2 separate regions of the Homo sapiens genome follow, and region 1 is linked to region 2. The links come from fine-mapping of genetic effects on gene expression. Tissue or cell type: whole blood. Region 2 holds a variant in brackets; the other region holds the start of a gene. All regions are shown on one strand. Distances are from middle to middle.

What was found.
Region 1: it holds the start of JAK2, and the variant in region 2 is fine-mapped to the expression of JAK2 in whole blood (TOPMed, PIP 0.92).

Annotation. Positions count from the first base shown.
Region 1 is chr9:4,983,713-4,986,732 of GRCh38, forward strand. It overlaps JAK2 (Janus kinase 2), which reads left to right and starts at 1,560. Exons shown (of 25, transcript NM_004972.4): 1 at 1,560-1,918; 2 at 2,228-2,310. RefSeq lists enhancers at 611-1,444, 1,373-1,512, 2,313-2,362 and silencers at 1,093-1,142, 1,183-1,262, 1,653-1,982.
Region 2 is chr9:5,061,982-5,064,481 of GRCh38, forward strand. The region is part of intron 8 of JAK2 (Janus kinase 2); the gene reads left to right. It also overlaps a transcript of INSL6 not described here. Among named protein-coding and RNA genes, the nearest start is that of JAK2, 78 kb to the left of the region's middle. The variant G/A (reference allele first, on the strand shown) is at 1,218.

The DNA.
Region 1 (3,020 bases), 78 kb before region 2:
ACCATTAAGTGCAAGACAGACCTGAAGAGCAGCATCAGTTGTGTATGGGGAAACAGGAGCTATGAATGCGTCACTTCATTTAGGTTGACAGAAAGAGGGCTAATACTTGAAAAAAATCCCTACACGATCTGGTGCCAGGCTACTTCTTTGGCCTCACCTCTTACCACTGCCCCCTCCTTCCGTGTCCTCCAGCCACAGTGACCTCTTTCCTGATCCTTGAACTTGCCAAACACTTTCCCTTCTCAAGGTCTTTGCCTTCAGGAGTCCCTCTGCCTGAAATTCTTTTCCCAGATAGTCATGGGACTGGTTCATTCTCATCCTTCAGATCTCTGCTCAAATGTCACTTATTCTAGGAAATCGTTCCTGGCCACCGTAAAATAGCACACCCCCTCCTCACTTTCTACTCCTTTTCTTTGTTATTATGTATATGGCAGCAGAAAACTATGCATTTTCTTAGTGGCAATTACACACCCCGCACATTATGCATTTAAAGCGTTGTTTGTTGTTTTGTCGCTTCCATCAGAATACAATCCAGTAGGGCAAGGAGTGTGTGGGGTCGTGTTCACCTGGTATCTCTGGGGACCTACAGCCCGGCACCTAGTAGACACTCAGTAAATATTTGAATGAATGAATGAGGCCCTTTGGCAGCCGGGAAGCCCGTCACAGCCGTTGTCTCCACCCTCTCCCGGGCTACACCAGGCCACGCCGGTAAAGTTGTTTCTCCTCTAGGAGAAACATTCGCTAGGCCTTGTTGCCAACCCGCAGGCGGCTGGGCGCTTCATCCCACCCTCACCCCTTTCCAGCCAAGGTGGCTGATGGGAGTCAGGCTCTCGAGGGCGCATTGCCACGAAACAGCGTGTGTGAGCGCGTTGTCCCCGGCCCCCGGCGCCACTTCCCCTCGGCCTAGCAGCCTGGACTGGGGAAGGACGGGTCTGCTGTACCCGGGAGGTGGAAGGAAAAGCCGAAAGCGGAGAAGTGTGCGGGAGGGGAGTCTCCGCGCGGAGGCAGCCCGGCCTCCTCCAGTGCAGGCTGCGCGCTGGGGAGCCAGCCAGGGTGAGTCACTCCCGGCCGCTTCCCTGGAGGGCGGCGGCCACACACACACCCGCCCATCTAGTGAGGGCCGGGCCCAGCGCTGGCGCCTAGCTCCAGCCGGGCACCAGCGTTTCGCGAGGCGCCGCCGCCTTAACTTCCTTGCGCGCTCACGCCCAGGGGCCGTCCCAGGAATCTCCACGCGCGCTCGCCGGCTTCCCGAGAGGCAGCTGCCCTGCGTGGCCCGCGCCTGCCGGTCCCGCGACCAGCACCGAGCGGCGCACGCGCACTGCAGGACGCGCGTCCGGCTCTCCCCCAGCCTCTATCCGGCCCGGTCTCCTGCCATTCGGGGAGACTGCAGGCCAACCGGGAGGCTGAGTTCGAAGCTAGCAGGGCGGCGAAGCCAGTGTCGCCCGCGGCGTTGAGAAGACGGTGTGGCCCCGGAGAGGGTGGAGACAACTGTGACGGGCTTCCCGGCTGCCCGAAGTGGGAGTGGTGTGGGGCTGCAGGAAGGAGAGAGGAAGAGGAGCAGAAGGGGGCAGCAGCGGACGCCGCTAACGGCCTCCCTCGGCGCTGACAGGCTGGGCCGGCGCCCGGCTCGCTTGGGTGTTCGCGTCGCCACTTCGGCTTCTCGGCCGGTCGGGCCCCTCGGCCCGGGCTTGCGGCGCGCGTCGGGGCTGAGGGCTGCTGCGGCGCAGGGAGAGGCCTGGTCCTCGCTGCCGAGGGATGTGAGTGGGAGCTGAGCCCACACTGGAGGGCCCCCGAGGGCCCAGCCTGGAGGTCGTTCAGAGCCGTGCCCGTCCCGGGGCTTCGCAGACCTTGACCCGCCGGGTAGGAGCCGCCCCTGCGGGCTCGAGGGCGCGCTCTGGTCGCCCGATCTGTGTAGCCGGTGGGTGTTATCTCTGCCTGGCTTCTGGGTGGGGGGCAGCAGCTGTCTCTCCACCCCCTTCCTACCTTTTGGTCCCGCCTGCCCCCTGCTAGTGGCAGCAAACTTCTGAGCCAGAAAAATCTTCCTCTTTAAGACGACACCTAGAACGAGTCTTGCTGGTGATATTTGCTTCCATTTGTGTCTTATAATTCCCTCGCTCCCGCCTCCTTATTCCTTTTTAAAATTTTCTAGACACTTAAACAGCCTAGAAAAAGCATTTGTTTCCCCTGGATTTATGTGGTAGTAGTTAACTGCTGCTTCTGTTTTTAGGTTTCAGAAGCAGGCAACAGGAACAAGATGTGAACTGTTTCTCTTCTGCAGAAAAAGAGGCTCTTCCTCCTCCTCCCGCGACGGTGGGTGTGCTGTCCTTTATCGCTGCAGTAAAGGCGAAGGTGTCTGGAGCTGGGAGTGCGTGCGTAGGGAAGGTTGGAAGCGTGTGAAGAGAGGCAGGGCTCATTGTTGCTTACTCTTCTGAAAATGTCAGTGCTAAACTTTTAATGTTGATCTGGGAGAGTAATTTTGGGGTGTTTTGTTGTTCGTCTTGGATCCTTTAAGAAACATTTTTTTGTTGGCTTTACACATAACGTGACTTTGCAGAGAAACGAAAAACGTTGTCCATTACCCTTTCTTCTTAAGCAGCCAGAGATTCTTAATCCTTTAAAGAGGAGTATTTCCAAGCAATAAGAGATAGCTTTTGGGAGAACACGTTAGCTATTCTTGCTGGGGTTTCTGCTACCACATTGAATGTTTCCTCATGGTTTTATCTGCCTAAGCTTGCTGTGTCGGTTGAATTTACCCAGTTTGTTTTCCAGTAATTACTAATCTGTTAGGAGAAACTCCATTTCTCTGAATGAAAGGGTAGGAGCGGCTGAGTATGGAGAAGGAAACTGGAAGTGGGAATAAGGGAAATGATTGCTTTTGGTTTCATAATAAGTTTGTACAGTGAGTTGTTGGGCTACTGCAAATAAAGATTTTGTATCCCTTCTCCAGAATGCTTGGGACCAAAAGTGTTTTGGATTTTTTTTAAAAATTTTGGAATGTTTGCATATACAAAATCAGACAT
Region 2 (2,500 bases):
AATAGCTATTCGGTGGAGCAGTCAGAACATATACAAATTTATCACTTAAGTTCACCATCTTATATAGGCCCAGTGTGTGGTGCCCCAAAACAATTACAGTTGACCCTTGGACATCACAGGTTTGAATTGTGTGGGTCCACTTATATGCAATTTTTTTTCAGCCAAACATGGATGGAAAATATAGTATTCACAGGATGCAAAACCTGCATATGTGTAGGGCTGACATTTTGCATATATGGGTTCTGCAGGGCTGATTTCAGAACTTGAATATGTTCAGATTTTGGTATATGCAGGGGTCCTGTAACTAATCCCCCTTGTATTCTGAGGGACAACTGTACAATAGTTACATCAAAGGTCATTGATCACAAATCACCGTAACAGGTATAATAGTAATAAAGTTTAAATTTTGTGAAAATTACCAAAACATGACACATAGGAAGTAAGCATATGCTATTGGAAAAATTGCACTGATAGACTTGTACTTGCTCCACTTAAGTTTGTCAGAAACCTTCCATTTGTAAAAAAAAAAAAAAAAAAAAAAAAAAAAAAAGGTCATATCTGCAAGGAGCAATAAAGGGAAGTGCAGTAAAACAAAATGTGTCTGTATATCAATAAGAGGGATACTAGTTAGTGAACTGCTAGTTCAAAGGGTATGAATATTTACAACTTTGATAGATTATTAAAATACTTCTCAAAAGGTGTTTCCAATGTATCTGTACACCTGTTTTCTTGTATCCTTTGCCAACACTGGATGTTATCAATCTTTTAATTTTTCTGCCAAATCAATGGGCAAAATAATGCTGTCCTGTTATATTTCATTTCCTTAATTAGAACCTGAGATTGAGCAATACCTCATGTGTTTATAGGTCAGCTTTAATATTTATACTTCTGTGGATTGCCTTTTCATGTCCTTTGACTAGTTTTCTTTTTTTATTTTTAATTGTTTTATACGTTTTATTCCCACAATGTATGTTAGGTATATTCCTTTGTTATACATGTTTGTAATCTCCAAGTCTTTTAATTTTGTTTAGGATACCTTTTATAGTACTTGTTTTTTTGGCTATTTGTGTTAGCTAAATACCTTTTATAGTTCAAACATGTCACATGCTTGTCTCTTTATTATAATTTTTGGTTGAGGACTCTATTCTGTGTTCTCTTTATGATTATGTAAATATTGTTCATTGCTGGGCCAAGAAATATGCTGTAATCACATTTTC[G/A]TTCTTATATAACTTTTTCCAGGAGTTAATTATTGCTTTATGATTTTTCCTTTGTATCTAGCTTTATTTTCATTTTCTACAAGAACTCTGTAAAGTAGTGGACTTCTCAATACAAAATTTCACATAATCAAACCTGTCATATATGATAGCATTTTTACTTCTTTTCTGGAGAAGTACCTCTTCGATCACAGCATCTTACTTTGTAGTGTGGACTGGAAGTTTTCTGGGTACAGCTATTATTTTGTCAGCTGTAATTTTTGGTCATTCCTTTCTTATCCTGGTAACTATGTTTTCATCTCTCTTATATTGGATCTGATTTTCTAAATCTCATGTTTGCCCTGTTTTTCTAGGTACAGCCTCTGGTATTTGTTGGTATCTTTAATGTGATTGAGACAAATTAGAAAATTAATTTAGAGAGGATTTTTACATTTTTATGATATTGAATTTTCCTACCATGGTTAATCTTCTATATATTTAAATAAAAAGTTGCATAAGAGTGTTTTGAAGTTTTTGTTAATTATTGATATTGCATCCTCTTTGTTACAAATGGGGCTTTTTTCATTATATAACTGACTTTTTGTATGTAAAAATATAATACGTCTATATATTTTCCCATGTAAGTAACATGCTGCATTTTTGGCTGACTACATGTTCACATATGTATTAAGATACAATCAGGCCGGGCATGGTGACTCACGCGTGTAATCCCAGCACTTTGGGAGGCCAAGGCGGGCGGATCATTAGGTCAGGAATTTGAGACCAGCCTGGCCAACATGTTGAAACTCTGTCTCTACTAAAAATACAAAAATTAGCCGGGCGTCTTGGCGTGTGCCTGTAATCCCAGCTTTTTGGGAGACTGAGACAGGAGAATCGCTTGAACCCAGGAGGCAGAAGTTGCAGTGAGCCAAGATCGCGCCATTGCACTCCAGCCTGGGCGACAGAGCAAGACTCTGACTGGGCGGGGGCCACAAAAAAATCATAGCATAGCTACATATCCTAACATTTTAGTTTGTAGCATGAATACTTTAGCAGTATGTAATTGGTATGTAGGGCTGATGCCGTGGCTCACGCCTGTAACCCCAACACTTTGGGAGACTGAGGTGGGTGGATCACTTGAGGTCAGGAGTTGGAGACCAGCCTGGCCAACATGGCGAGAACCTGTCTTTACTAAAAATACAAAAATTAGCTGGGCATGGCGGCATATGCCTGTAATCCCAGCTACTCATGAGGGTGAGGTGGGTGGATCGCTTGAGCCTGGGAGGTGGAGGTTGCAGTGAGCCAAG